5 linked regions of the Homo sapiens genome follow. The protein of the gene in region 2 purifies or fractionates together with the protein of the main gene of each other region. This does not show direct contact. Each region holds a gene or a part of one and is shown on either strand. Other genes may lie near its edges.

Evidence for each region.
Region 1: the proteins of LRRC61 (region 2) and NEDD1 purify together in Homo sapiens (affinity purification with mass spectrometry; one large-scale study listed by BioGRID and IntAct). This does not show direct contact.
Region 3: the proteins of LRRC61 (region 2) and CUX1 purify together in Homo sapiens (affinity purification with mass spectrometry, with the first as the bait; one large-scale study listed by BioGRID). This does not show direct contact.
Region 4: the proteins of LRRC61 (region 2) and TEX264 purify together in Homo sapiens (affinity purification with mass spectrometry, with the first as the bait; one large-scale study listed by BioGRID). This does not show direct contact.
Region 5: the proteins of LRRC61 (region 2) and CIP2A purify together in Homo sapiens (affinity purification with mass spectrometry; one large-scale study listed by BioGRID and IntAct). This does not show direct contact.

Annotation. Positions count from the first base shown.
Region 1 is NC_000012.12:96,912,928-96,919,456, reverse strand, and holds part of NEDD1 (protein NEDD1), read right to left. Parts: intron 1,837-6,529; coding exon 1,720-1,836; intron 1-1,719. UniProt on the Homo sapiens protein: Required for mitosis progression. Promotes the nucleation of microtubules from the spindle.
Region 2 is NC_000007.14:150,334,603-150,340,282, reverse strand, and holds the end of LRRC61 (leucine-rich repeat-containing protein 61), read right to left. Parts: intron 3,566-5,680; 5' UTR 3,422-3,565; coding exon 2,642-3,421; 3' UTR 2,127-2,641; downstream 1-2,126. Other genes in the region: RARRES2 (retinoic acid receptor responder protein 2 precursor), read left to right, coding at 79-183, 1,202-1,297, 1,542-1,658.
Region 3 is NC_000007.14:102,190,108-102,196,636, reverse strand, and holds part of CUX1 (Homeobox protein cut-like 1), read right to left. Parts: intron 2,796-6,529; coding exon 2,747-2,795; intron 2,562-2,746; exon of another isoform or gene 2,432-2,561; intron 1,131-2,431; coding exon 1,034-1,130; intron 4-1,033; coding exon 1-3. UniProt on the Homo sapiens protein: May be involved in intra-Golgi retrograde transport.
Region 4 is NC_000003.12:51,697,587-51,704,115, reverse strand, and holds part of TEX264 (testis-expressed protein 264), read right to left. Parts: intron 4,711-6,529; coding exon 4,542-4,710; intron 393-4,541; coding exon 100-392; 3' UTR 1-99. UniProt on the Homo sapiens protein: Major reticulophagy (also called ER-phagy) receptor that acts independently of other candidate reticulophagy receptors to remodel subdomains of the endoplasmic reticulum into autophagosomes upon nutrient stress, which then fuse with lysosomes for endoplasmic reticulum turnover.
Region 5 is NC_000003.12:108,560,095-108,566,623, forward strand, and holds part of CIP2A (protein CIP2A), read right to left. Parts: coding exon 6,403-6,529; intron 5,361-6,402; coding exon 5,261-5,360; intron 3,151-5,260; coding exon 3,032-3,150; intron 748-3,031; coding exon 555-747; intron 1-554.

The sequences.
Region 1 (6,529 bases), on a different chromosome or scaffold from region 2:
TTCCATTTGCTGAGAACCTACTAGTGCTGGGAGCTTTATATATTATTTAATGCTTAGAAAAGCCTGAGGGGCAAGGTCATTTTGCCCATTTTATAAATGAAGTACATGAGACACTGAGAGGTTAAGAAACCTGCGCAAGCTCACGTAACTGCTAAGTGACAGGGCCAGGACTCAATTCCATGTCAAACTCCAAAGCCTCTCTTCCTTCCACTATACCAGGCTGCCTCTCAAATCCAATTAGGAATACACTTTGAGGAAGTAAAACTTTCAGGTTTTAAACAAACTGAGTTCACAAGGACTATGTTTTCCAACATCAAATTAGAGATGTCCAGCAGGAGAGAAAAGTGACCAAAATTGGGAGAAGAGTTTTTAACAGGAAGATGCCATATCTCAATAATACAAACAAACTAAGCCCTGTATCTAATAATTATTTATGTAACAGCAAGAATAATAGCTATGATATTCCACTTATATTACAACTTTTTCAAGTGGTCCTTCAAGTATTTTCAGAGATTTCTTTACCTATTATTCCTTTCCCAAAACCAAGGAACACTTGCTATCTTGAGGAAAAAATGTTTGATGAAAAGAAAAAAGGAAGAGCAGACGTTCTGGGTATCGTTCCCATTTGGGAAATTAAGAACATGGGGTCCAATGTAATTTCTATGACTTTATAAAGAGGCAAGTGTCTTCCTAATTTCAACTGTGGAGAATAAGTCATTCAGCAAACATTTACTAAGAACCTACTAAGTGCCAGAAATTGTGTTAATCACCAGGGAGACGACTGTAGAGATCCAAAGGTAAAAGATTAGATTTCCCACTATCACAAGTAGTCAAAATATTCATTAACAGAATGAATGAGGGAGCTAAACATTACGAATTTCACACCGAAAAGACAGAAAACCATCCAGAGTAATTGAGAAAGCTGAAAATGGAAAAAATCATCAAATTTTGCCATGCAGGGATGGGGTAAGTGAAGCTTACATGGGAGATGGATTAAAGAAAGTTCTTCCTCTGTGTATGTGTGTAGATATAAATATGTTTATATTTTTCATATTAAAACTTTTTTAAGACAAAAATTAATTTTAAGATCAACTTCTAAATATTAAAAAGACAATATAATGAAAAGTAGAATTCCAAAAAAAAGACCATAGACTTTCTTGTGCTGAATATTTTTATTTTCTGAAACTACAAAAAGCTAATTATTAAAGAAACATTAATTGTAAATAGTAAATTAGTTTACAAAATATTACCAAGTTAAAAATACAAACACACACACACAAAAAAAAAACACAAACAAGAGCAGCCAAATATACTACATAACTAAAAAGCTGACCCAACTCTGATTACTGTATTGAATACTATCATCACAAAACAACTCTCATTTTTTCCACCTGGCCCTAAGGAAAGATCCCTGATGACCACACACCATAGTTTAGGAAAAAATGAGTGAAGTGGTTCATTCAAATAAGAGTAGAACTAAATAAAAAACAAGAAAAAAGTTGTAAATGTTGATCATATGCATTAATGCTACACATGTAAGAAAAAAGACATAAAAATAAGTTTTTGGCTAAATAGCACCTTTATTTTCCCTAACAAATCTTAGTTCAATTCTGAAGCCTCTTATTTTTATCATAAAAGCTCAAAAATAAAAGCTTGGTAAGTACTCTAAATGCATTAAGATATCCATTTTTTCATGAAGATTTTTTTTAAATTGCTTACCTTAAGAGATCGATGAACTCTTTTTGATTTTAAATCCCAAATATTAACAGTGTTATTTAGGCCTCCGCTTACCAAATACATAGATGTAGAATTTAAATTGACACATGTCTGCTTTTGCTATTTAAAAAAAAAAAAAAAAGTTACCTTAATTTAACAGAGCCCAGAGCTGACTTTCAGGTCTCATCCAACACTTAGTAAGCATATGATAAATATTGGTTAAATTAAATACTATAAACATGCTAATCTTGTACTAAAGAGCCACTCTCTCATCGTCTTTCTTCCACATGGATCCAACAGCTTTTAAGGGGGTCAAAAATGCTTCAAGGAAATCAAATAGATTTGCATTCACTTCTGTGGACCGGTGACGACACAGGAAGCTTAGAAAACACTGGCAGTCCTGGTCTCCCATCAGGGCTTGTTTGCCCATCCTATCTCCTCTTGATAAAGCCTGCTCTTGTATTTCCACAGAATATCCTACATTAAAATCAATCCCCAGCTCAAAAATGCTAAAAATAGAAGAGACTTTAAAAGAATTTCCAGTGTACAGCCCTCATTTTACCGATGGGATAAGTTTTTTTTTAAAGAAGTCAAGATACTTGCCCTAAGTCTTCCAGCAAATCTCCGTTAAGGAGACCAAGTCTCAGACATCAGGTCATCAAAGCCTGACTTCAACTGTTCCCCATCTCTGTAAAGACACCATCCAGTTTCTCAAGATAAAAACCCAGAATAACCCTTGATTTCTTGTTCTCCCTCCCCTCCAATCTATCAGTAAGCTCTCTAAACTCCAACCCAAGAATGAATCCCACATGGGCTCCCCTTTATCTATAGCTACTACTAACACTAACCCAAACCTTACCAAACTACGACAGCAGCTTCCTAACTGGTTTCCCTGTTTCCACTCCTGCTCTCCTATATTCCATCCTTCATAAGTAGGGTGGACTTTAAAAATGTAAATCAGATCATGTCTCCTTCCATACCCAAATGACTATAAATCATGCTGCTATAAAGACACATGCACACGTATGTTTATTGCGGCATTACTCACAATAGCAAAGACTTGGAACCAACCCAAATGTCCAACAATGATAGACTGGATTAAGAAAATGTGGCACATATACACCATGGAATACTATGCAGCCATAAAAAATGATGAGTTCATGTCCTTTGTAGGGACATGGATGAAATTGGAAACCATCATTCTCAGTAAACTATCGCAAGAACAAAAAACCAAACACCGCATATTCTCACTCATAGGTGGGAATTGAACAATGAGATCACATGGACACAGGAAGGGGAATATCACACTCTGGGGACTGTGGTGGGGAGGGGGGAGGGGGGAGGGATAGCATTGGGAGATATACCTAATGCTAGATGACGAGTTAGTGGGTGCAGCGCACCAGCATGGCACATGTATACGTATGTAACTAACCTGCACAATGTGCACATGTACCCTAAAACTTAAAGTATAATTTAAAAATAATAATAATAATAATAATAATAATAATAAATCTTCAACGGCTTCCAATCACACCAAGAATAAACTCCAAACATTTACCTGGCTTTCAAAGTCCTATTATTTGGGCCCTACCTCATCTGTTACCATTTTCTTCCTCATCCACTAATTCTCCAGCCATACTGACCTTCCATTCCTTAAATATACAACCCTATATTTGCCTCAAGGCTTCTACACAGCTATTCTCCTTGCCTAGAAAGCTAAATTCACTGAACCCTGTTTGGAAGACTTTCTGGTCAACAGATATCAACTTAAGTGCCACCACACTTCAAGGGACCTCCATTGGCTACCTAATGTAACTTGCTATCACAATATCTTATTTTAGTTATCTGCATGATAACTTACCAATATCTGGGTATTTTTTGTTTACTAGTTTACTGCCTGTCCCCCGCCAGAATGTCAGTTTCACTAGCACAAGGCCCATATCCATGCTCCATCTTTATAGAATGGCTAAAATACAGATGTTGTCAAGTTCTTCTCAGTGAGTATCTTTGAGTGTCACCAATTTGGTGGTGCCATCAGTAACTATGCTATACAGAACAGTGTTGCATTTTTTTCCTAAGTAACCTTTAGATGCACTACGAAGTCACATTAGTTGGAACTTCCACAGTGCATCCTTGGATTCTTCAAATTCAAAGGAGACATTTCATGACTTCAAGAAAAGTTAAAAGGCAAGCTATGTAGGTTTAGGCAAATCATCTCACCTTTCTGAGCCTATGCTTCTGCATTTGAGAAACGAAAGGTGAAGACTAGATCTACTGTTCTTACTTTGAGAATCCATGCTTCTCAGAAATATCCTCTGCTCAAAAGAGATTCTTTAAAGGGTGCATATGATCCCCTTCCTCTAGCCCTTCCCCCATTGCACGTTCAAATACTATAAACATGCTAATCTTGTACTAAAGAGCCACTCTCTTACTGTCTTTCTTCCACATGGATCCAACGGCTTTTAAGGGGGTCAAAAATGCTTCAAGGAAATCAAATAGATTTGTGTTCACTTCTGTGGACCCCAGGGTTCCTTCTAGCTCTAAAATTTTGACCAAGAGTATCAACTAACATATAAAAATAGCAAGATGCACACAACATCAATGTTTCAGTATAGTTGCTGTAATTCTCCTGCAGATACCATTCTAGGAATTGACTTTAGTTGAGGGAGACTAAGAAGCTTTAGAATCTGGTTGTCACTGCAAATCAGGACAGTTTGCTAAGAACTATCAAAACAGCCTTTAAATAAAATAGAAAAAGATGGTGTCCATTGAAGATCAATATATTGGGACTCCAATCATCACAACAACTACAATTACTCTTAAGGGCTCAAAATAAAAATTATATTTAGAGCTGGCTAACCCTGTTGATAGGTCTTTTTTATGATAATGTATTATTAATGCAACTAATGAACTTAAATAATTAATGGAAATTGTGTGGTTATTACAGGAATCCTGAACTGCTCAAGGTGCAAGGCAAAGGTACATTCTACTTTAAAGAGGTGAAATACAAAATCAAAGAAAATAAATATGAACTTAAAGTTCTACTCTAAAATTTTAAAATCAGTAAGATCATAATTTATTTTCTCAAGTAGAAAAGGTCTAATGCCTCAAATAATACACGAGTAAGAGGACTTGGAAGTTACAAAAAGGTTATTAGCACATTAATATGTTTCTGTAAACATTACTAGTAAAAGCTAAAAAACCAATGTTTCCAAATATTTTCATAACTAAATTAAAATAGATTGAAAATTTGAACTCAACTAATCTTACTTTTATCCAACAGCATTATGATACAATTTGTTAACTATGGGAAAGAGGGCTAAGAATCATAGCAACTAATTTGGAATATTCACAAAACTCTTAGAATTATGTCACACTTGTAAATACCATCTGTTATTTTTATACTTTAAAAAAAAAGCTCCCAAATACTGATTCACTGATCCTAAGGCATAATGCATAACAGTAGTACATATATATAGTGGTAGAGTAGAAGTTGAAATTGTTTTGATGTTGACATTAACAAGTTTTTTGAACATCTTAGGATACAAAGATCCAAAGATGGTTAAGATGTTTTGCCTGCTCTTGAAGACTTCAGTCTGCCTTTATCGACCAGAGACATTCTATGCCTTGATTCTGCTTAAGTCAGGTTAAACAGAGTGCCTCAAACTCCATTTCTACTGTTAGCACATGTTCCCTCTGTCCCAGTCTCCAACATCTGTGGGTTAGAACTGAAGTTCAGGTCAATCCCACTGGATACCTTTAGGAGAGGATTGATAAAAATCATGAGTCCTCTTTAAATTAGTTGAGCTTTTATTCAGTTGTCCTGCTGTTTTCTTTCTAATTGGGCTACTTTACCTATCCCAGTGTGTAAAATTATGACAATTCATAATAATTTAAGATCTGCTAGAAAAACTTTGAAATTAAAAAAAAAAGCTATCAACTACCATATCTTTTTATTTAAATCTTATCTTATTTAAAAAAGAAATAGCTTTCAAAGAGTGTGTGACTAGAAATGAAGAAGCCAGTATTATCCTTAATCAGAGGGATTAACTTATAAAACAAAAGGATAGGCTGGGTGTGGTGGCTCATGCCTGTAATCCCAGCACTTTGGGAGGCTGAGGCGGGCGGATCATGAGGTCAGGAGTTCAAGACCAGCCTGGCCAACATGGTGAAACCCCGTCTCTACTAAAAATACAAAAATTAGCCAGGCGTGGTGGTGGGCACCTGTAATCCCTGCCACTTGAGAGGCTGAGGCAGGAGAATCGCTTGAACTGGGGAGGCGGAGGTTGCAGTGAGCTAAGATTGCACCATTGCACTCCAGCCTGGGCAACAGAGCGAGACTCCATCTCAAAAGAAAAAAAAAAAAGGATAAGGCAACAGTACGTAGTGAGAGCTTCATTTAAACGCCCTGGGACCTAAGCTCATTTTGACAAAGCCAACCTGTTTAAGGAGAGTATGGGGGAGGCTCAGACAGGCCCCTCAGTACAGGTGGACAGAATCTGAAGCAGAGAGCTACCATCAGCTGTGAGTCTGTTCCTGATGGTCCTGAGCCCAAGATCAGTAAAGCAGTGCTGTGTCATTAGAGTTTATATGCTCAGGTCAACCTAGTAACCTATGTGGGATATCGTCCTAAAATAGCAGCAACAGAGATCCTCTCCCACTGAGGGAAAATGGAGAAATGAAGTGCCTAGTCAACAAAATTCAAGTCTTCAATTGTTCCCCTATATTCAAAACTATTTTACCTAAAAATACTTTAGTAAGTACACATATCTCATTTTTAAGTGTTACTATATTATTTTGAGCTTAAGTTAAA
Region 2 (5,680 bases):
AGGTGCGGATCACACCAGGGCTTGCTCTGCACCCTCAGCTGGCTACCGGCCATCCTCTGCCTGCCTGTCTGTCCGCAGCCCTTCCCAGCTGGAATATTTGTGAGGCTGGAATTTAAGCTGCAGCAGACAAGCTGCCGGAAGAGGGACTGGAAGAAACCCGAGTGCAAAGTCAGGCCCAATGGGGTGAGTGAAGGGGTGTGAGAGCAATGGGCGCATGCTGGGTGTGAGTGCATGGACTTGGGGTTTGGGGTGTGGGGCACATGCCTGGGTGTGCATGCATGAATTGGGAGGTCCATTAAGAAGCCCTGAGGTTAGAGACCCCACTGCGAAGAGCCTCCTTAGAGGTGGAGTGGCTCAGCCTGAGCCCAAGGTTGTGAGAGTGGCTGGTGGGAGCTGGGGCCTGGCAGACAGGAAGATGGTTTGGTTACCCCTGGACTTATCTTCATCAGAGCAGGGCTCACCTCGGTCTGAGTTCCTCTCTCAAGCATCAGGGCCTGGGTGGAAGGAGCCGGCTGTGTGGGTGTGTCTGGTGCCCCCCTAGCCTAGCAGGACTCCAGTCATCAGTCACGGTGGGGGCAAACCTTCCACCGTGGGGGTGATGCCTGGGCTGGGAGTGCAGTGACTGTGTTCTAGTTCCCGCTCTGTGAGCACGGCCTGGGCTCTGTATTACAGGTTCTGCAAAGGCCCCAGTTCCCTCTGTCGGCTCAAGGAGGGCACTGGACTATAGCAATGATTCATCAACCTCAAAATCAAATCTTACAAGAAAATAAATAGAATAGGTGACAGCTGAGCCACTCTGGAGGCGTTGGGTGGGAAGAACCCATCGGAGGAGGATTCTTGCCTTCACACGAGCACAAGCAGACACATCCATGCATACATCACACACCCATCCACCCACACTCCTGCATACAAACCACATACATGCGTGTTTATGCATGTGCCACACAACCCATCTGGGAAGGACTCCTGCCTGCACACACATGAAAGTTCCATAGTTTGAAAACTGCATGGGTCTGACTTCTGACATTCTAGGGTGGCTGTGCCTGAAACCTGCTGGCCTGCATGACCTCTTGCTCCTGGGCTCGAGGGCCTAGTTGGGGATCTGGTCCCATGATGGGCAGCCCTGGCTCCCACCCTCATGATGCCCAGGCCTCCCTCACCCTTTTCCTCTGCTCACCCCATGCTCCCCGCTCCCCCACAGAGGAAACGGAAATGCCTGGCCTGCATCAAACTGGGCTCTGAGGACAAAGTTCTGGGCCGGTTGGTCCACTGCCCCATAGAGACCCAAGTTCTGCGGGTAAGAAGGGGCAAGGGTGCACAGGTGGTGACAGGGCTGGGAAGATGGATGGAAGCTGAGCCTATGGGCTGGTCTCGAGGCTAAAGCTTGGCCAAGCAGGAGGGAGGGCAGTGGGGGCTAGAAAGCGCTGTGCCTGTTTGGACATTCTCCAAGGGATGTGGAGGGGATGTGGAGGATGCTGGCAGCCCTCCACTGGCACTGCCCACCCCTCCTACACTGCCTGAACAGTTTTGGGCACTGGCAGGAGGCTGAGGAGCACCAGGAGACCCAGTGCCTCAGGGTGCAGCGGGCTGGTGAGGACCCCCACAGCTTCTACTTCCCTGGACAGTTCGCCTTCTCCAAGGCCCTGCCCCGCAGCTAAGCCAGCACTGGTAGGCACCAGGGGGCTGAGAGCACCGTCTGGATGAGGCCAGCCCTGGGAATGCTGAGGGGCTGGGCTGGGCTTTGGGAGCCTGGGAGGGGACAGGTCAGAAGCCTGGGAGGAAAGCTGGGACTGGGGCTGAAGCAACCTCCCTCACCCCCAAACCTGTTTCCCCTTTTGTCTAGAGATGCGTGGTGCCTCCAGGACCGCTGCGGGTGGTAACCAGTGGAAGACCCCAGCCCCCAGGGAGAGGAACCCGTTCTATCCCCAGCCATGATAATAAAGCTGCTCTCCCAGCTGCCTCTCAGCTCCTTGTGTTGCACGACTTCCTCCTTAGCGTAGCTCAGAGGCGGCCAGAGAGGGCAGGGGGACAGGACCCTTCCTCTGGGACCCCTTCCTGTGGGCAGGGTGAGCAGAGCCTCCTGTGCTCCAGAGCCAGAGGTGCCCCCATGAAATGCCAGGCAGGGATGCAAATGAAAACAGAAGCATTTAATAGATGTGTGGACAAGAACGGGCAGAGAAGGTGCTGCGGGGAGGGGGTAAGTGCAGGAGCAGTCTGGAGAGGCACATTTGCAAGGCAGGGGAGTCCCACTTCCAGGAGTGCTCTGGGCCACTCAGCCTGCCTACTGTCTCCCAACAGCTGAGACGGGAGGCTGGCCCATCCCTACCTTTCTCGCCTGTAGCCTCAGGAGGAAGTAATTCCTTCCACTAAGTTGCAGGCTGGAGCAGCCCAGAGTGGCAGCAGCTGCGGACACAGGCTCACGGATGTGGGAGCCCTTACACCTGCTCACAGCCCTTCAGTCTGTCCTTGCAGCATGTGGAGGGATGGTGGGGAGGGGCTGCTCTCAGGATAGGGATAAAGCAATAGCCCAGTGTGCAGGGCCAGTGACCAGTGTGAAGCAACTAAGACGAGTGTGGGGGCAGAGAGGGGAACTGGGGGCAGCGAGGCCACCTGCCAGGCTGTCCTGGGCCATAGGCCACGTTCAGAAGACGAAGGAAGAGGTGGGGCCCGCAGAGCTGAGTACCTGCTCCGCCTGGGCCAGGCTGTCGCTGGCCTGGCGGTCCAGGTCCCAGCACTCCTGCAGTGTGTCCTGGAACTGCCGGCAGGCCTCCTCCAGGATGGAGCTGCTCCGGCTGGGCCAGGACTCCCAGTAGCCTGGCTCCACCCAGGGCTGGGCCTCGGTGGCTCTGGGGCCTGGACTGGAGCTGGGACGCAAGGAGCTGTCCAGGTCTCGGCACAGCTGGTAGAACTCACTACCACGCCCAATCACACGCTCACCGTCGATGACTTTCAGGCCAGGCAGCAGCTCCCGGACTGCAGCCCAGTAGGAGGGGTTGGCACAGAGCGGGTTGCTGAGCCGGGCCAAAGGGTCTCGGAGCCGCAGGTACTCCAGGCACGGTAGCCCAGCCAGACACTGCAGCTGGCCCGGGGTGGCCAGTAGGTTGCCTGCGGCATTGAGACTCTGCAAGTTCTCACAGGTGGCCAGTGGCTCCAGGCCCGTCAGCCGATTGTTGGAGACATTGAGCACAGCTAGCTGGCGCAAGGAGGCCAGCGGGCCCAGGTGGGTGAGCGCGTTGCCTGATAGGTCCAGCCACTCCAGGCCCAGGCACTCTCCCAGGCAGCCCAGGTCAGCCAGTCCCAAGCCACGCAGCTTCAGTAGCAGGATGGACTCCAGGGAGAACTCGCCTGTGCGTGACTTCAGCAGCTGGGGTGTGATCTGCAGTCCGCCAGCCTCTCCCGGCTTCTCCGCTGGAGGGTCCATGAGATGGAAGTCGGTTGGGATGGCCTGGGCCCTGGCAGGACTGTCACAGGGTTCCACTGGGGGTCAGCTGGTGCTCGCCCTGGCTCTACCCAGGCCAGTGCCAGGAGGCCTGGTTCCGATGCCCTGCTCGAAGCCAGCCAGTCCCTGAGGAGAGACAGTCAGTCAGCAGGCAGCACTTTCTGTGTCTTACGCAGCAGGTGACGGCAGGGAGTCTGACCCTGCTTTTACCATGAAAACCAACAATCTCAGCCAGGCAAGACCTGAAGACCAAGCTGGGACACAGGCCACAAAAGCCATCTGAGTGACAGGGATGGGGTGCAGGCCCAACCCAAGGGGAGCAGCCCAGACTGGCCCTGGCTGGTTAGGGCCATGCTGGATGGATTCAGGCCCAATATTACCAGTTCTTCCTGTCAAATCCAAACTAGGGGCAAAACATTATTTTACTTTTTCCGTAACCACTCACGATCCATCCCTATTAGTTTTGGGGTGTTTTTTAAACCGTTATTTTTGAATAGGCAATAGGTAACCACCATCACCAGTTTCTTTTGTTTTCTTTCTGGGATAATCAATGTATATGCAATGCAAACGAGAGCACATGTGCCTTGTTTGATTCACTCAGTATTACTGCAATTCTTTCTAACAGCAATGAATTCAAACTTGTTTCCAGATTATATGGGTCAGCTGGTACCTCTGGTTGGAGCTGTAGAGCATAAGAAGTTGGCCTTTAGTCCTGAAGGAGAAAACTGAGGTCAAGGTAGTGAAGGGACAGGGAAGGCTGGGGTAAGTGGCCTGGCTAGGTCGCACACCCTTGCTCTCACTTCACTGCCCGCCAAAGCTAGCTCTTTTGCTCTGGACTCAGCTGGACAGATCAATGGAACAGCACTGATATACGTGCCAGACAGCACGGTGCCAGCTGCAAAGACAACATAAATTTCCCAAAGGGCAGGCTGTCTTGGAGGGAGGGAAGGGTGGCTCCAGAAAGCCGGGAGGGGCACATCAAATTGCCAGGGGCTGCAGGACCAGGTGAGTCCAGGTGCCAGCGCATGACTGTGGCACAAAGCAGGGGTGGCCTGGTGGAGGGACCTCAAGATTTAAGCAGTGAGGAAAATAACAGACCTCTTCCAAGCGCAGCTTTCCCAACCTGGCAGACTTTGGCCAGGCCCAGACCCAGGAGTCTCACCCAGGCCGGCGGGGTGATGCCTGCCCTGCAGATCTGATGCAGGGTGTCGGTGACTGAGTTTACATATCAACACTTTTCATTTTCCCCTCTCCAAGGAAACCAGGCCCAGAGCCTGATCCACTTAGCTCCTCCCACACCATCAACAAAGATATTTACTATGTTCCCAACCAGGGAGCTGGCGAGGATGTAAACGGTCTTGCCATCCTTATGTCCTCTACACCCCATCTGGAAAGGGGAGTCCTTGTGCTTATGGCCCCCATTTCCTTATCTAGCTCCCTTCTAGTCTGCAACATTCCAGCTCATTCTCTTTTATTTATACCTCAAATATTTATATATACTTTCCAAAAGAGACTGGAAGCATCTGCCAAGAAGTGTGGATTCCCTCAGTGGGAATGGAATCTTTTGGGGTTTGTAAACAGGGAGTGATGCAATCAACTTTGCATTTGATTAAAGCTGCTCTGGCCCCTAACGTGGGGGGTGCAGGAGGAGCACCAGGCACTAGAAACCTGTCTGCTGTGAAAACAAAAGATACAGGCCCTAAGGAGGGCAGGAAGCAATGGGGAGGAGGAAAAAGAGCCTAGGACGACTGGGGAATCTTGCTGGGTGACTGTATGCCAGGGGCTCCTTTTTTTCTTTTTTTTTTTTTTTTTTGAGACAGAGTTTCACTCTTGTTGCCCTGGCTGGAGTGCAATGGCACAATGGCGCGATCTCGGCTCACCGCAACCTCCGCCTCCTGGGTTCAAGCGATTCTCCTGCCTCAGCCTCCCAAGTAGCTGGGATTACAGGCACCCGCCACCACCATGCCTGGCTAATTTTTGTATTTTTAGTAGAGACGGGGTTTCATCATGTTGGCCAGGCTGGTCTCAAACTCCTGACCTCAGGTGATGCCCCCTGCCTCGGCCTCCCAAAGTGTTGGGATTACAGGCGTGAGCCACCACACCCGGCCCGGGGCTCCCTTCTCAGACATGTGAAATGCAGGTGGGACAGGTTGGAGACAAGAAGACATCCAGCTACACAGCACTCAGCTTGAGTGAGTGTGGCGTGGGGCTCAGGAGGCAGCTGGAGCTCCAGGCTGGAGG
Region 3 (6,529 bases), about 48 Mb from region 2:
ACCCTACAAGGAAGGGCAAACAGAATGCATTATGGGGGATTCCAAAGGGGGAAAAAAAAACCAAGACCAAAATGCAAAAGTTTGCCCCCGCAAAAGGGAAAACAAAAAAAAGTGCAGGTTTTTTTTACAAGGGCCAATGAGGTGGGTTGGTTTGTTTTCCGATTAAATTTGTAAGTCAGCCAAACGAGGCTTCCCAAAACAAGCAACATGCATTCATGTTTGCGCCTTTCTTGTACGTTGCAGCCTGGAGAGTCCCCTTGACATAGACTCAAACTCCTAGCGTGACAAGGAGCTGGTGACACACACAGGGAAGAGTTGACGGGTCGCGGGCCTCTTACTGGGCCCGCTGGCCCCGGCCGGAGGAGCAGCAAACACTGACATTTTAGGACCAATGGATTCGCTCGCACCTCTTGCTCTGAGGCGATGCACCGTACCGAGCCCCCTCGATGTGGAGGCGCGCGCCCGTTTTGAGAATGCAATACCATTAGAGCCCGAGACACCTGTACGCGTTTTACCAGCTGCCCAAACCAGAAGCACAGTCAAGTGACGCCACCATTTGGGGGATGAGCCAAGAAAGGCTAAGGATGGGGGACGCGTCCCCAGGGGAAACCTGACCAAGGAAGAAAAACCTCTACTGGACCCGGCAGGCCCGGGGCTGTCCCTGAAAACACCACCAGAGCGAGGCTGGGTTCACACTGCCCCTGGCCTCTGTGCAGCACAACCAGACACAGATCAGAAAGGCCGACGTCCTCCGAGCTGTCCCTCCCGGGGATTCCAGCCGCACTGCCCCTAACTGACCTCCGCAGAGCCTGTGCGGCTGGCCCGTCTCGACATCCAGCTTTAAGCAGGGCGGGGAAGGGAAGGGAGGAGCGGTGAGGAGGAGGGCACCCAACACGCGTTAGTCAAAGGTTCTCGTCAACCGGCGCTTCTCTGGCCATGCATCTGTCCAGACTCACGATTCACCTTCCTCGTCCTCGACCGACCCCTGGAAGCGAACCAACCACCGCACACGCGCGAAGCCCGGCCAACCTACCGCTCAGGTCGCTGTTGGAGATGCGCAGCGCGGCGTTCTCGGACTGCAGCGAGCGGTTCTTCTCCAGCAACAGCACCTCCAGGGGCTTGGCCGCATCCTAGAAGGGGCAGAGCGGGGGTCTCACTGCGGGGCCGGCCACTCACCCGCTCCCGGGGCCACCAGGCCTGGAGCCCTGCCTCCCTCCATCTGTCCGCGTTCCCACCCAGCTCTCGATCTGATTAGGAAGTGGGCTGCGGACAGCTGATTTCCCCCCAAGTCGTTTAACACACGTGGAAAACAAGTTCCCTTTAGAAAGAATGGATTCTAGTTGAAGTCATTTTCCTTCTTAGACTTCCACAGCTCCTAAAAAAATTAATTATTCTCTCATCTGTTCTCAAACTCAAGCGACCTGAGCCCGTGCCTCATTTGGCCATAAGACTGGCTGCCAAGCCACAAACGTCTGTCCGAACGTTACTGTAAAGGGAACTTTTCTTTTTTTTTTTTTTTTGCCAGCCACAAAGATGTTGGCTGTCTTCTGGGCATCAGGAGTCAGATTCCACTTAGGATGTCAATTTTATTTGATTTGATTTTTTAATTTTTTGAGATGGAGTCTCACTCTGTCGCCCAGGCTGGAGTGCAGTGGCATGATCTTGGCTCACTGTACCCTCTGGCTCCTGGGTTCAAGTGATTCTCCTTCCTCAGCCTCCCAAGTAGCTGGGATTACAGACGTGCGCCACCACGCTCAGCTAATTTTTTATATTTTTGGCAGAGATAGGGTTTCACCATATTGGCCAGGCTGGTCTCAAATGCCTGACCTCAAGTGATCCACCTACCTCAGCCTCCCAAAGTGCTGGGATTACAGGAGTGAGCCACCATGCTTGGTCTGGGATGTCAATTTTAATTGGCCACCAGATGACCCTGGGCCACAGTCATCCTTCCCTTGTACCTTCTCTACTGAGGCAGCATGTAACTAAAGTTCCTAAACCAATCCATTTTTGGCTGCTCTTTAATGCAATTAAAAAAAAAATAGTCAGTCTCAATCTGTTGTCCAGGCTGGAGTGCAGTGGTGCGATCATAGCTCACTATAGCCTTGAACTACTGGGCTCAAGCGATCTTCCTGCCTCAGCCTCCCAAGTAGCTGGGACCACGGGTATATGTCACAGTACTTGGCTATTTTTTTTTTTTTTAATAGCAACATGGTCTTGCTATATTGCCCAGGCTGGTCTCAAATTCCTGGCCTCAAAGCGATCCTCCTGTCTTGGCCTCCCAAAGTGCTGGGATTACAGGCATGAGCTACTGAGCCTGGCCTTCTTAAACACAATCTGAAATTGTTTTTTATTTATGTTCTTAGTACCTGCTGAAGTGAAATCACAATTTCACTTCAGTTACCAGTTTGGAAAACACTAGCTTTTCTCTTTTTGCCTCTTTTTGTTAAAGATAATTTGCTTTTTGGTAGTGCCCATCTCCTATCAGTCAGGGATGAAGCAATCCCTTGTTCATCCCCAGCTTGGCTTTTGATCTATGCCTGGTTCATGCCTTGGACACATGGAAAAAAAGGAGACAAAAAAAAAAAGATAATTTGCTTCAACTTGGTTAAATGTTCTTGAAGTATGACTCATCGGCTGTAAGTGAGAGGTCTCGTAGAAACAGTGGATCATGGGATATGCCGGAGGGACCAGTGGTAACCAGCAGCGGGGCTGATGCTAGTGCTGACCATTGAGGTGAGACACGTACCTGTGTCCCAGCGCCCTCGGACGGTGCAAACTCCATGGACTTCAGAATGCTGCAAGAGCACAACAGAGGGGTTATTTTATTTATTTTTTGAGACAGAGTCTCGTTCTGTCACCCAGGCTAGAGTGCAGTGGCGCGATATTGGCTCACTGCAACCTCTGCCCAGGTTCAAGCGATTCTCCTACCTCAGCCTCCCGAGTAGCTGGGATTACAGGCATGTGCCATCATGCCCAGCTAATTTTTGTATTTCTAGTAGAGACGGGGTTTCACCACGTTGGCCAGGCTAGTCTCGAACTCCTGACCTCAAGTGATCCACCCGCCTCAGCCTCCCAAAGTGTTGGTATTACAGGCATGAGCCACCAGAGTGATTATTTTCTACTTATACCTTTGACAACAGCCACATTAATAAGCATTAACATTACAATTTCCTGCTCTCCAGGAACCGAAGAACTGTCAACTTTAACAACTTCCCTGGCAGTAATAGAATCTGATAATGTCTCTAGAATAACTATTCAACTAGCAGTTGGCTGGCAAAAGTTTCTTGCCTAGCATGTAAATCATTCCATATGGAATCACACCAGGTCTGTTCAGAGTATAATTTTAAAGTTTAATACAGACATAACATTGTTGCAAGTGGAATGTATTTGTAAAGCTTAAAGGGAAGGAAAAAGTTGTAAGGAGAAGCCAGAGAGAGGGGAACCCACCAGGGCGGCCACTGCCCACACCTCACTCCTAACTGGCACCTACCTGGGGACCAGGGGACATAGGCAAAGAGCAACCTCCTAGACTTGGATGACTCAGAAGCCAGGTGGGCAGACCTTCTCTGCAGCCCCAGGTTGGGGAAGGAGTGCAATGACAAAGATGTGGCAAGAGAAGGTGACTTCTCCCTCCCTTGTTCTCAATGGCACTGAAAAGGGCCGCACCCTGATCACTACGGTCTCTGGGCTGTCTCAGTGAGTCCAGGTCCCCAGGATTATTACTGTTTCTTGAGTTCCTTTTGCTGTGGATGTCCCTTTTTTGCTGAGTTTACCAGGGAGAAGAGGGGAAGTGAGGCTATGTGGCTTTGAAGGAGCTGCAAGTGTTTCTTTGAAATACCAAGGATGGAAGAGAGAGACCCAGAGCAGGCTGGCTGGACCGTGAGATTTACGACTCGCAGGTGCAGAGTCAACCGGACCTTCGCCATGTTCCTGCAGCCACAATTTCGGCCTCTGTCCCCCTAGTGTGAGCCACCACACCTGGATAATTTATTTTTAGTAGAGACGGTTTTGGCCAAGCTGGTTTCCTGACCTCAGGTGATCTGTCGGCCTCCCAAAGTGCTGGGATTACAGATGTGAGCCACTGCGCCCAGCTGAAAGGGGTTTCTTAAGATGGAATCCTGTCCTTCGTTTCCTATTTTCTTTAGGATTATGTAATAAAAGACCACGTGGCTCTTTATCTATTCTACAGATCTTTACCAGCAGCCTGCTATCCGCTTGTTGCCGTGGGGAATCAGAACCACTCCTGGTCCGTACTCCAGGAAATTTACAGGCCATTACAGGTAATAGGCAAGACTCCAAGTGGTCCATTAAGACAGAACTTGTGAGGACCCCAGCAGGAGGGATCTTGATGGATTGGAGACCACGTCTCAGTGTCATGATGAACAAGCATTGGAGAAGGGCCCTGAAGGGACAGGGTGTCTTGTGCTGCAGTGCATGAGGATCTGAGGTCAGCATCCCCTGTTGCGTGGGGGTGAGGAAGTGGAAATGGGACGATGCTGAGAAGGGGACGCGGGCAAGAGCTCAAGAGCACAGCTGGTTCACCAGGAAGTGGAAAACTAGGAGCGCATTTGGGCAAAGAAGCCACCTGAGTGGGGCTTCCAGATGTGCACATGGTGGTGGGGCCTGTCATGTGCGGACGCAACAGAAAGAGTTAGCAGAAATGCAGTGACAAGCGGGGCTGGTGTGGCAGCCCTTCAGTGGGGGTAGGGGCAGCCTGTGGTCCGGCAGGCTGTGGATGAGAGGGAGTAGAACGGTATGTGTTGCAGGCTGGAGCCTGGAAGCCTCAGCTCCCAGGGGATGAAGTGAACGTGGGGGTTGGGGGAGAAGAGGAGGAGGAGGAGGAGCAAGAGGAAGAAGAAGAGGAAGAGGAAGAAAGAAGAAGAGGAGGAGGAAGAAAGAAGAAGAGAGGAAGAAAGAAGAAGACAACGAAGACGACAATGAAGACGACGACTAACTCCCAGGGTGAGGCTGGGCAAAGGCCTTCGCAGCAGTTTCTCTGGCTCAAAATTAAAAGGCCCAATTTCTTTTTCTTTTTGGAAGAGGGAAGAAGAGGGAAAGGAAGGAAAGAATGGGATAGGAGAGGCAGGTAGAGAAGGTTAACCAGGTAATGTTTAATAATAAGTTACATGTAATCCCGGCACTTTGGGAGGCTGAGGTGGGTGGATCACCTGAGGTCGGGAGATTGAGACCAGCCTGACCAACATGGAGAAACCCCATCTCTACCAAAAATACAAAATTAGCCCGGGGTGGTGGCTCATGCCCGTAATCCCAGCTACTTGTGAGGCTGAGGCAGGAGAATCGCTTGAACTCGGGAGGCGGAGGTTGCGGTGAGCCGAGATAGCACCATTGCACTCCAGCCTGGGCAACAAGAGCTAAACTCTGTCAAATAAATAAATAAGTAAGCAAGCAAGTAAGTAAGTTACAGAGGCTGGAACTGTTAGAGGGATGTAGGGGTCTGTCCGAGGAGGTGCCGGCAGAGGCTTTGCAGCTGGAGAGGGGATGAGACCGCTCAGGGGGAGAGCATGGTGGGGACAGGGACTACCAGGGCCAGCAGACGCCAGGGAGGCTGGGGGTCCCAGGCGAGAGAAGGCAGCTGGTCATGGAAGTGAGATGGTTCAAGAGGATGCCCGAGGAGCTTTTCTTAGCAGAATGGAATTAACAACACAAAGAAAACGTGGTGAGTGGGTGTAGGCTCATCTTAAAAGGAGAAATGGAAAATAGCAGCAAGAGAGAAAGGGGCTGATGGGACAGCAGGAGGGGCAGGAAGGAAGGGACTCAAGGTCTAGGCAGAGGGGGCAGCCTGCAGAGATGGGAGGTGGCACCCAAGACCAGAGGCGGGAGTCTGTCCCTAGCAGAGGGCTAGGGCATCTGTGGATAGTGGTTGGGGTAACAGTGACAAGGGCAGGGAGGAACCCCTGAGGAAGCCTCGAACCAGCAGAGCTCCAGCCGCGAGAAGCACGGGGGACCTGTGGGGCTGGTCACCATGCCCTAGGCAACCTTCGTTTGCAGTGCTTAATAACCTAGGAGTGAGGCGGGCATGCCAGTGGGAAGGCTTGGAATGGCTGACGATCCAGGGGAGCTGTATGAACGTAGAGGGTCTGACCACAGGCTCCAGGCTTGCAGGGGAGGTCAGTGAGCCTGGAGCATTATGGATGTGGGGGGACAGGTAAAGACCAGGACCTGGGAGCTCCAGAGTGCCAAAGCAGGCTCAGGGTGAGGAGGCAGAGGTGGGGGCTGCTGGCCGAGAAAGGAACTTTGAAGCTTGAGAACTGAGAATGCCATCATTAGCCCTGAAAAGATGATAAGCTTTCGGCTACAGCCTCACAGATGGAGAATAGAGTTTGGAAGACAGAGTTCCTGAGTCCAGGAGGCCGGGGCAGCGTGAGGCCATATGCCCACCTTCAACCCGAAAACATTTCCCTCCTGTGCTTTGTTTCTGTTTGGGGAATTTATAGTTGCAAAACAAGGTCATATTTGATCATTTCTGTAAAAGCCCTATGCCCCTGATTCCATACATTCTGGAATACCT
Region 4 (6,529 bases), on a different chromosome or scaffold from region 2:
CCTCCTCCCCCAGAGGAAGGAGGAAGAGGGCTGGAGAGTCTGCTGGAGAGTCTGCTCAGTTCCTCAGCAACTGCACTGCAGGAGGGTGCAGGCCATGGGTTACTCCTTGCCCTTCTCAGGGGCAGTGGGCTCCCAGAGCCACTTGGTAGTCCCCAGGGGCTCAGTCCCAGGGTCCAGCCGTGACTCCCCTAAGGGCCCCTCGCCCTCCAAGTCCAGCTCCTCAAAAGAGGAGCCGCTGGCACCTGACTCGCTGTAGCTGTGCTCGCTGCGGGTGTCACCGTCATCCCAGCCACGGCTGCTCGCCCCAGGTGACAGTGTGGCAGCTGAAGTCTCCCGGCTGCCAGGGCTCACTTCCAAGCTTACAGAACTCGTGTCACTCATTGTGTCAGCTCCTATGACCAGGAAAAGGGAGCACAGGTTAGCTAGGACCACCCCACCCCCTCCTCCAGGGAGAGGCAACTCAGCACGCAGTGCACTCATGAATAATGCAGCCTCCCGGGCTCAGGGGGCTTGCTCCAGCTGCCCTCTGCCCTCTACCCTGACTGGGGCTGCACAGACAGGGCAGAGGGAAAGAGCTGGGAGGAAGGGAGGGAGGGAAGGAGGGAGGGAGGGAGAGAGGGTGGGAGGAGGCAGCTGTGCACTCTTCTCCCCACTCTAAATTAGCCTCAGCTCCCTGCACTTCCACAAAGCCTGCTGCCCTCCCCCCACATTTATTAAGGGCCACTCAGCCCTGAGGTGAGGAGCTGAGGTAGAACAAAGAGACACAAGTAGTGTCCTCTCCACCTTCCCCCACCCCCACTTCAAGCTTGGAAAGAGATGTGTCCAGGGCCAGCTACAGAACATCACCCACAGGGCACGAGGACTGCAGAATGCAGCAGGAGGCCCCTCTGCAGCCCTCCCCCGTGCAGGGCTCCCAGGAGCAGCATCCAGGGAGTCAGCAGGCCCCTGCCTCTGGTACACACCAAGTCCCAGTTGAGGAGGGAGCTGAAGTACGAGGAGGATGGAGAAGGCCTGAGAAATACTCAACCAGCTGCAAGGAGGAGGGTGCTGGGATGAAACATGTTAAGGGTTTTCTCTCCCTATGCCTGGGTCGACCCTGAGAAACCCTTACCCACCCCACCCCCAATGACTGGTGCTTCCTGAGCCACAAGATAGCAAAAGGGGATGATGAGAGCACTCTGCTGGTGGTTGGGGTGCCCCAAACCAGTGCTGAGCCAGGTTGATGGCCCAAACTCCTTCTAACCTGCTCCTTCCACCCCCAATACATCCTCCAAGCAAGCAGCCCCTTCATCTGCCCTGTCCAGGAGCAACCCCTGGGTTCATCTCCCTGGATCAGAGGCACTGAATGCAGGCTGGGGTGGCAAGGAGGAACACATGGCTCAGGCTCGCTGTGTGCAGGAATCCAGACTGGGAGAAAGTGGATCTGCTACCCTTCCTGTATGATGGGGAGAGGGTCAGCTGTCAAACATCACAGAAGGTGAGGGGTTAGCCAGCTTCCCCAGCCACTGTCTCCATGGTGTTGGAGCCAAGCCAGGTGCAGCTGGGGTCTGCTTGGCGCCTGGACTCAGCCTGGGGCTTTCCTTGAGCCTCAAATGGGGCCTAGGTTGGGGGTGGGAGAATTAGGAGAGGGGGGAATTTGGGGTCTCTCCCTACCCCCACCACCCACTCAGCCCCCAGAATATGCCCTCTGGGCGCTACTGGCAGAGGTGAGGTGAGCCCTAGAAGCCCAGGCTGCTGGCCCAGGGCCCTCCTCTTGCTGAGGCCCCAGGTGTGGCTCCCAGGACAGAAGCCTGTGAATGAGGTGGTCAGGGAGCTGGGGGAGCTTTAAGTTTTGGGTAGTTTCTTCTGACCAGGGGACAGGATGCCAGGCCCTCACTGCTCCTTAAATAATGATCAGTGCCCCAGGGACCGCAGGCCTGAAAAGAGCAAAGGAGGGAGACAGTTTCTCCCTGGCCCTATTAAACTGTATGTTCTGTCTGCCCACCCACCCAATGGCTCTCTTGGGACCCCAGGTATAGGAATGTGCCTGCTTCCCAGCATGCTACCTCCTACCACCCAGCTCCTAGGCTAGGAATGTTCAGAGGAAGGAGCCTAGGGGTGCCTCCTTCAGGCCAGGACAGCCTGCTGAAATGAAGACAGCCCCTGGAGACATATATACACTTCAAGCAAAGGAATTCAGCTGGAGGCCAGGCACGGTGGCTCACGCCTGTAATCCCAGCACTTTGGGAAGCTGAGGCAGGTGGATCACATGAGGTCAGGAGTTCCAGACCAGCCTGGCCAACATGGCAAAACCCCATCTCTACTAAAAATACAAAAATTAGCCGGGCATGGTGGCAGGCACCTGTAATCCCAGCTACTCAGGAAGCTGAGGCAGGAGAATCGCTTGAACCCACGAGGTGGAGGTTGCAGTGAGCCAAGATCATGCCATTTCACTCCAGCCTGGGCAAAAAAGGAAAACTGTCTTTAAAAACAAACAAACAAAAAAAAGGAATCCAGCTGGGCATGGTGGCTCATCCCTAGAATCCCAACACTTTGGGAGGCTGAGGCAGGATCACTTGAGCTAACAAGTTCAAGGCCAGCCTGGGCAATATGGCGAAACACCATCTCTATAAAAAATACAAAAACTAGCCAAGCATGGTGGTACACGCCTCTTGTCACAGCTACTCAGGAGGCTGAGGTGGGAGGACAGCTTAAGCCTGGGAGGGAAAGGTTACAGTGAGCCGAGATCTTGCCACTGCACCACTCCAGCCTGGGCGATAGAGCCAGACCTTGCCGCAGAAGAAAAAAAAAAAAGGAATGCAATACGGGGAAGTAGCATCCCTATACCCCCACCAAGATCTACACAGGAGGAGGTCCCAGAGTCCCATGCCTGCATCCCTGGGCAGAAGATACCAGGCAAGGCAGGGCCCTACCTAAATCCCCACGACTACTGGGGCAGGGGACTTGAAGCCCACCCCCTTCACCCAAATCCCTCCCTCTCGCTCTGCCCACAGCCAGTGCAAGACGATCAAATATTCATCGCCTCTCTGAAGCTAAATAATACATCAATGTAATAACAGGCACAAGGCAGCTAATCACCCCCTTTCACCTCCCGGCCTAAGCTAGGGCCACAGCAGGGAGGCGGGCAGGGACAGGCCAAGCCTTGGGCAGTCAGACATCCTGCATGCACCCACCACCAACTGCTGTGTCAGTGGCATGCACCTGGTGGGCAAACACCGAGTCCCGCTGGGGTGTCAGGACAGGCCCTGTGAGAGGTGGGCAGACCCCTTGGCCCCAACACCAGGGAGTGGGTGGGCGGGCTGGAGGGGAGGAAAACAGGCTGAGGAGCTGGGGAATGTGGGAGCTGCCACTACAGCCAGCTGTAGTGGGTGCCAAGCAGTCCTTCAATGACCCTGACAGGCAGTGTTTGGGAGGGAAGGAAGCTGGGTGGGTGGGTCAAGGAGGGGGAGGCAGGCAGCAGAGGGAGGTCACAGTAAAGTGAAGGCACTCTGTCTTCCTGCCCTGGAGGCTGCCTGGGCCTGCTGACCTTGTGCCATGTCCTGTGCCCACAGTAGGGGCACTGAAGAGTGTCTGCCGGGCACTACCAGGCAGAAGGGAGCTGTACCCCATGGAGGTAATTAAGTGGCAGATGAAGTTAACTGTGTTGGACACAGGCCCCTAGGGAGTAGAGACTGCTCCCAATACCCTCCTACCCAGCCCTAGCTGACACGTCTCCCTAGGGTGACCTTGGCTGTTGAAGACTGGATGGGCAGAGCATCTGCTAAAGAAGGAGGAGAGGAGGGACAGTTCCTCTCCCCACAGCCCTGTACCACTCCTAGAAGTCACAAACTCCACCAGGTTGGCCAAGGATAAGGCCCCCTGGGACCATCTGGGATGTAACCCAGCAGACCCCCTTGTGCCTGAGACAGCCCGGGGTCACAGATCATTGCAGAGGGGTGGGCAGGCAAGCAGCCTTCCAGCCTGGACCTGGGGCCTTGAGGCTGCCAGCAGGAGTGTGGGCTGGCCCTGGAGAAAGGCACAGGTGACTGATCTCCTGGCTCCCCTCTGCATGCTCCCTGGTTGTTCCCTGGCAGGGAGAAAGCAGCTGGCTCTGGGTGGGGCCCGTACTGAGGGACAAGAGAACACTTTGCTCCCCTCCTTACCTTCCAGATCTATGCCAATCTTACTTCCTGCTGAGCCCCACCCAAGGGACTCCTTTCCTGAGCAGCCTCAGCCCCCTCCCATGAACATCGAGCTGTCTGTGATCTTTGTTTCCAAGGGTACTCCTGCTGCATCTGGAGGGAATCCAGGCAGGGTCTTTGTATCTGTGTTGCCAGGAGGTAATGTGTGTGAATCCACATCTATGTAGATCCATGTGTCTGGGAACAGGCAACTCCACATGTGGGTCCTCAGGTAGGTGGGTCTCCTTCCTCCCTCTGCCAAGCATAGCCTGACACCCACAGTGCCAACCCAGAGAGGGAGGAGCCTCCTCAACCAAGCCCCTGGAGTCCAGAAGAGAGGAGCTCCAGGAGGGCCCCATCCTCATACCCCACCTTCTGTACCTGTGCCATCCACCTGGGTGTCAATGGCCTCCACAAGCCCCCGCCATTTCCACTCTGTCTCCTTCATCTCAGGCACATAGAAGTCTCCCTGCCGTGCCAGTGGGCACATGAAATGGATCTGGTCTTCCTGGTAGATCTCCAGCCGAGGATAGGCACACAGCTTCCGCTCCTAGTCAGAGAGTGGCAAAAGGTAGAATGAGCCCTACAGGGCCCCTGACTCACTTGTCCCTGGGTGACCCCCAGAACTGTCTATTACCTATTCTGTCCCAGGGGCTGGCTCTGCCTCTCAACCTCTTCCAAGTTCCAAAGCCCTGCTGAGGGAGGCACACATAGATCACCCTAACAGCAGGGCCCCATAGTCCAGAGTGCAATAATAGTCTGAAGACCCAGGACGACACCCTAGGGCAGGTGGTAAAAGAACCCAGGAGCCTGGCACTGCTCTCCTATGTGTACATCTGAGACCAAAAAGCTGTTCCAGAAGGCACTGGTCTCACAGAGCCATGAAGCTTGGCACCCCTGGACCACCCCAGGATAGGGACCCCATGTGCCTAAGCCAAGGTCTCACCTACCAGACTTTCCATCCCAGGACCCCCTGGCCCTGACCTCCTCTCCACCCTGGACAACGCTGACTGACCCACAGATATCAGAAGACCAGCACCCCCAGTCCTTAGGCCTCCAGCCCCTGCTCTTGCAGACATGCTACTATAGACCCTGAACAAGGATCAAGGCCAGCTAAACACCACTTCCACTCCCATTCATTCCCCTGCTAGTTTAGAGCTATGTCAACCTCTGAGACTATCAGGTATGGTTCCCATACCTCCTCACATGTAAACTCAGGTTTTAGCTGATGGGGAAGAGGGAGACCCTGGACTGGAAGGTCAGGTAGGACAAGTAGATCTAGCACAGGACATTACCCAGTGGGCTGATGTACCACCTTTTGGGCCCCAAGTTCCAAAAGGCACTCCACCTCCCTCTGCCTAGACACAGAATCCAGTGCTCCCCATCCCCCAATGAGTATGGAGGGGCACAGACATGCCAGAGCCACCCTGAGGCAGGCAGGGACAGCCAGAACAGGGGTCAAGTTGCCTCTTACTCAGAGCCTGCCCCGCCACCTTTCCTGCGAAGGAGCACAAATACCCACTATGATGACTGCAAGGCCCCTGCCCTGTCACTGCTCACCCGCCAATCTTCACAACACGACTATTTATAGCATTCGCCCCGCTCTCACCATGAGCTCTGAAATGAGCCTTCCACTTAGCAGTAATGAGAGACTTATTGCCTGGCAAGGAGAAGCCACTCCAAGACTCCACTTGTCCACCTGCCTGGCCAACCCTAGGGTTGAGGAACCTCCTTCAACTAAAGCAAGCTAGCAAAGAAGGGTTAAAAGCAAGCCCACGGATGATAAAGGGAAAGAGGAGTGAGCCTGAAAGGTTTACCTAGCTAGGACCCTCAGCAGCCAGCTGAAGGGAGGGTGCATCTAGGAGGCCACGCGGGAGGTGGATGGCCTGTCCCAGGTCTGGCTGTGGCTCAGCCTCTGACTCCATGGGTGATCCAGGCAAAGCCTTCCATCCTAAGTCTCCATGTGCTCAACAGCAAAGTAGAACACCCTAGCCCTGATGCTTCCAAGGTCGGTGAAGGAAAGTCATTATTTTTTAATAGTTGGAGTCAAATCTTCTTTGCCAACCTGGGTGCCCTCGGGGCTTCCTCCATCTCAAGAGTCCATGCCCCTGACACGTCCCATTTCTAAACACACAGATGGCTGTCTTTGCTTCTCTACCCACTCACATACCCACTCCAGCCTTGGTCTCCAGGAGGAGGCTAAACAAGATCACAGTGTCAGGAAGCAGGAGCTGTCAGGCTCTGGGGCCCCTCCAATGCCAGCACTTAGAGGCAGGCATCTGCCAAACCTGAACCCAACTCAGCAAACTGGTCCAGGTCACTGAGGCCAGGGGCAGGGAGGCCCCTGAAGAAGGTCCAGGTCCTTCCCC
Region 5 (6,529 bases), on a different chromosome or scaffold from region 2:
GCCTACTTCAAAACTAAATCATTAAAACTTAATGATGAGTAACAAAATAAAAACAAATGCTACATCAGGTAAGTCACAAATATTTCTTTTTTTTTTTTGAGATGGGTCTCACTGTCACCCAGGTTGGAGTGAAGTGGTATGATCTTGGCTCACTGCAACCTCTGCCTCCTGGGTTCAAGTGATTCTCCTGCCTCAGCCTTCAGAGTAGCTGAGACAACAGGCATGAGCCAACACGTCCAGCTAATTTTTTGTATTTTTAATAGAGACGGGGTTTCGCCATATTGCCCAAGCTGGTCTTGAACTCCTCAGCTCTGGCAATCTACCCTCCTTGGCCTCCCAAAATGCTGGGATTACAGGCGTAAGCCACCGCACCCGGCAAAATGTTGAAATTTTGACTGATTTTTCTTATTTCCAAATTTTCCAGAATATTGTTATTTCTTATATTAAGGTTTCAATAGTGAAATCTGTACCTGACAGTGTTTAGATACACGTTATAATTGGGACTGACATATAGCTAATATGTACCAGGTTATAATTGCTATTTTTTCACTCACCACCATTCCAGACTGAAGTTTCTCTATTAATTCTTCAATATTCAATCCAGGAACACCATCTTTCAAATGAGGAGTTAAACACTTTATTGATGTTGGAAAACTGTGATTTGATGATTGCCAGGGCATTTTTCTGGGTATATGTTCTGTTTCCTGTTGTCTATAGGCATTGTTTGCTGCTATACTTTCTCCAAGTCTGAATGGGAGTCAAAGAAAGGAAAAAAAAATTATACGAAAATAGAAGAAAAGGCAGACTTAGTGCAGAATTAGGGAATTTTTAAGAATGGGTCCTTTTTTTGAATAGAAGTCTTCAAATAATCTTGGAGACCATGATGAAATGAAGTCTTGGGAAATATTCTGAATTTTCCAGAGCACCCACTTTTCTGTTTCTAACCTTTTATAATGACAGCTTCACCTCTGGTTTGGAGGCATTGTAAGACTAGTTTATGAGTGTGGATTATCTGTAATAAGTACAAAGTTATTGGTACTGGTCAGAATAATGTTCTTATCATGGGTGATATCACCTGGCCTTTACGTCCTTAGTCCTTTTCCTTTCTCACTCAGTACATACTTTTCACCAACCTGACTTCCATTCTAACCCTTTAAAATCCTCTCTTTCTCCTACCTCAGGCCTTCATATGAGCTGTTCCTTTATCTGGAACACGCTTTCTACCACAAAACAAAATATTTTTTTCACTTATCTCTTAACTAAAGTGCAAACTGCAAGATGGCAGGCACTCAGCCTAATTTATTATAGGCTGGGCATGGTGGCTCACACCTGTAACCGCAGCACTTTGGGAGGATCACTTGAGTCCAAGAGTTCGAGACAAGCCTGGGCAACCTGGTGAGACCCCTCTATAAAAAAATAAATTAATTAAGCAGTTGTGGTGGCACAAGCCTGTGGTCCCCGCTACTCAGGGGGTTGAGTTGGGAATATCACTTGAGCCCCAGAGGTCGAAGCTGCAGTGAGTCATGATCACACCACTGCACCCCAGTCTGGGTGATAGAGTGAGACCCTGTCTCGAAAACAAACAAGTAAATACACACACACAAAAACCCTACCTACCAATGCATCCATAATATACATTCAGTTTATTAAACGCCCAAGATAATGTCAAATAAGGGCATTAAATAGTAAGCATAAAATGGACATCTGAGATAATGCCCAAAGAGAAAATTATTTACAACACAAATAAGACAGGGAATGCCAAGACACAGTCAAAATGGTGGGAAGGCCTCACACACAGAGGCAGAGGATAAGACTTCCATGTTCAGTGAGGCTGCAGATTCCCCTTTGAAGCTCTTAAGGTTTTGTTTCATGTCAGATTACCAGTTTATGCAAGCAGGCCATCACAAAATAGAGCAGCTTTACAGACCACTTTTAACTTGTAACTTGAAAAGCTTCCTGTGTATTTTTGTTGTTGCTGTTAAAAAAATATTTATTATAAAATTAAGGGAATTTTGGTTATATGTTCTCTAGGTCTTACATCCCATACTTTAACTCTTAAGGTATGATGACCTAAATTGCTAATTCTGAAAAGTGGAATCGCTAAATCAGTGAATAGCATATAGCATGGACCAGCACTTTTTCTTATAGGTCAAGATAGTAAGTATTTTAGACTCAAGGACCTATCTGGTCTCTGTCACAATTACTCAATTCTGCTTTTATAGAGTGAAAGCAACATAGACAGAGTATAAAAATGAGTGGGTGTGGCCATATTCCAATAAAACTATTTACAAAAACAGATGCCTGTCCACTGGCCAGTTTGCTGATCCCGGTATACAGGGAATATCTTACCTGTTTATCAACTACTTCAAATTATTCAAACCATTTTTACAAATTCATACATATAAATGACTTAAAAAAATTTTAAACCAGACTCCTAATAGACATTTAGTTCAGAGAGCCCTGAAATCTGAATTTTTTTTCAAACATAATTGCAAATATTCTTATTGCTTGAAAGTAACGAGTATAGTAGAAAATTTTGCCTGGTTGTCATTTTTCCACTTTCTGATAAAAGTTCAGATTTTTTTCTTTAGGAACTCTCCTATTCTCCTATCCCAACTAACTTTTAGTCCACATCGTTCTCATGGATAACCCAGGCCTGGTCAATGACTAATGCTTAGACCTTTTCCTTAAACAGTCAGGAAGGAAAAGCTCTTTCTATGGAGGAACTAAACTGGGAGGATGTAGGCTTAAGAGTGTCCAGAAGTTATCATTAAAAAGAAGTGGCTAGAGACATAGAGGGATAGTACCTGAAGAACATTTAACTGCCTGGATCTAGCTTTTCCCTGAGTGAGTATACATCTGAACTTTTCATTTATAAGAATCAAACATTTTTAGAAATCACTTGAAAAATTACTATTACAATGAAGTCTTCAATTCACTAATTTGCTTGTGTATCTATACTGAGGACTAAAGAGACATAGCAGGGTATTCCAACACCACAAGAGATACACTGCAAATGATTACAACTCACACTAAAGCAGGAAAATCTGGCAGTGGAGCAGCCTCCAATAATATTCTCAGTCCAGACTGTACTTGTTCTCTATTATCTGACGTTAAAGCAAAAGCCAAAGGAGTAATCAAACGTGGGTCCTAAATAAATCAGAAACCAAAAAAGAAGCAGCAGAAAGAATAAACAATGTCAGCTCTTTTAGATAGGAGGTGAGTAAATATATGTAAATCTTAATTCTAGGCAAATTCTAAAATGTTTCTAATGTTTGAATATATTATAGTCTATATAGTTTGAATATATTATACCTTGTTATAGCTGTTTACACTGCAATGCAATCAATATGAACAGTTTAAAAAAATCTGGCAAAGGTTTTGAATGCTTTCAAATGTGCCTATAAAAATTATGCCTTATATATTTTCGTGGATTAAAAAACCCACAACTGACTGATGTGTAGAATTAATGTTTTTTTCCAAGCTATCATTTAAAAGAAAAAAATGGCCAATCACTTCCAAATTAAGGCTATAAAATAAAAAGTAAAATTCAAATTAAATTAGAACATTTAAATTTAAAGATCGAAAAAATACAGTTACTTCAATCATTTATGTCAGTAAATATTTTACATTAGTATTGTAAGCCCCAAGTCATCAACATATATCTAAAATGTCTGGGACCAGAAGTGTTTCAAATTTCTGATTTTTTTCAGATTTTAGAATATTTACATGTACTTACTGGTTGGGCATCCCTAATCCAAAAACCCAAAATGCTTCAGTGAGCACTTCCTTTGAGTATCACCTTTGAGCCTCATTTTGGTACTTAAAACGTTTTGTTTTTTGGAGCATTTCAGATTTCAGATTTTCAAATTAGGGATGCTCAACCTGTATTATGAAAAACATCTTAAATAATGGACATAACATCAGTTTGACTCCTTTAAAAATACATTGAGATATTAGTGAAGAAAATATTAAAATATAAATCCCTTATAATTAAAATATTGAGTACCTTGTAGGTACTTGAGTATAATCCAGTGTCACAGAACTGTGATAAGAGCAGAGCTTTATCTCCAAAACCCTCAATGGTAAGCCTCATTATTTCCAGTTTGTAGTCGAGGAAATTGAAGTCGAGAGAGGTGAAATAACTTACTCAAGCCTGTACTAAGAACCAGTAGAGTCAACATTTGAACTCAGTCCCTTAATCTCAAAACATGCCAGTGGTCCCTGCCTAAGGTTTCAGTTTTGGCTTCTACACTGTCTATACAGTCACTAGAGATGTCTCTGTTAAGCTACTGCAGTAATTTAATTCACTCATTTTTGTTAAACATCTGTTGTAAAGGTAGGTGTTGTAGATATTATTACACAAAGTTTTTAAGAGGCTAATATTTTGGAGTAGTCTCCTCCACTATGCTTTAGCAGACCAGATCAAACCAGAAAGGAGTCACTTGGATGAGTGCCATGTAATCAAACTGCACTTTGAAATGGGCCAGTTTTCCAAAAAACCAGGAGATTTCAGTCAACCTGAGTTAGTATAATAAGGAAGCCCCCTTTATTATAATTCTATAGGAAAAGTAACTTTGAAATGACCAATCTGCTTTTAGTTCCCTATTTGTGCTTTCTTCAGCCCTTTTCTGGTCTATAAAGTCAACCTTCTCTGCTTAGCCCAGGGGAATGATTCATTCTATTTTATAGAATGAGGCTGCCAAATTCTAGAATCATAAATAAAAGCCAGTTAGAACTTTGAACTAAATTTGTTGTACTTTGCCTTTTGATAACAGCTAGAGATCATATTCAGCTACTATTATCATTGAAATTTGTGAGTTAGCTATTTTCTGCACAGCCCTTCTAATTATCACAATCCTTTTCTTCCAGCTGTCTCCCTATCCCCTTAATACCCTACATCAACCCTAACCAAAAACAAAAACCCTAAAACAAATATCACTCTTCCTCCAATGCCAACAGAAACAAATGAAGAAATATACAAATACAACACAAGAAAGGAAAAGGCTGAGGAAGCAGCACTATTGTGAACATTCTCTACATTAGTGTCATGAGCACTTATGTTCAATTCCTGTGAAAGTATATAAAATAACTGTGCAGTGAGACTATTATAACTGCTTAAGACAACAACTTTAAACTTTCTTCTCATTGCCAATTCTAAGAGAATTATCTTCTAAAGATTAAGAATATTAAAACAGAAACTTATATTAGGACCATTTATGTATGAATAAACTTCAATGTTTGAAGAGTTTAAACTCACCTGAAGTATTTTGTAGAAGCTTACTTCCATACCAGGAACCAATGGTTTAAGTTTGTTAATCAAATCAAGAGTTTTCAAAATTACATCAGCAGCAAGTTTGCTTTAAAGATAAATCACATTTAAATTAGATAACTGAAAAATTTCTTAGAGCTTGTTTCTGTCCAAAATTCTAAAGAAAATGAAAAAAACCAACACTTGTGTTTTTTAAATTCAAGATGATAAAGTCCTGTTTCTATTGAGAAGTAAAAATCTCAATCAACATTCTTATAACTCAAGATCCAAAGAGAACAAACTGGCATTAATAGCCTTAGTTTAGACAGTGTTTCTTTTACTACCAACCTGCTTCAACTTTCTGTTTCAAGTAAGTAGTAGTTTCGAAACACAGTTCATTTAATTCTTAGCTTTGTCACTAGAATATCAACAACAGACGGTAACCTTAGGCAATATAGAATATCTAATACGTAATGAATGAATTACACTAGGTCATGTTCTGAGTTTTGTACCTGAAAGTAGTATACAAATATAAAAACAGATAATTCTTACTCTAAAGGTCCACAATTACTGACAATTGTGACATCTGTGGAAACAGAAACAAATCATAGTGTCTACCACTCAGCAGGTCCTCAGTAAAGATTAGATGGACTTAATTCATGAGGAGGGAAGGGGTATAAAGTAATATCTTATTACCATCAGTGAAAATCCACCTTTAACCATAATTCCTGACCTGCCAAGGAAGGAGAGTTGTCTGTTATTAAAAAGCCTTTAGCAGTGACTGATTTCCTTGTAATAAAACTACTCTTCTGTTTTTTCATGCTTTTCATTTAAAAAAGTAAAATTGATTACTGAGGCAATGTCAAAAAGGAGCTCCAGAAATGTTCAGAACCCTTAGATAATTATAGTAAGTTAAAACAAGACAAAACAAACCTAAACAATAAAAAACAACAAATGTTAATACCTTTCTTCAAAAAGCACACAATCTACAAATTGAATGAATTTACAAAAAATTCATTATGAAAATATGTTTGTTAATCTGTTATATCTTAAGTTATAACCAAAGGATGGTCCTCCAAAAGGATGAGAATCACCACATCTTTCGATTTTTTACTGCCTTGCCATTTTGTCATTAGAGTTTATATACTCACCATAATTCAGAATCTGCAACCTTTGTTCCAAATCCCAGGTCAATCTTGCCATATGTAAATTGTTGTTCTATAAGAGTGGTACACTTGACAGTTGTCAAGATTTTTGCAATATGCATTTTTAGTGTAT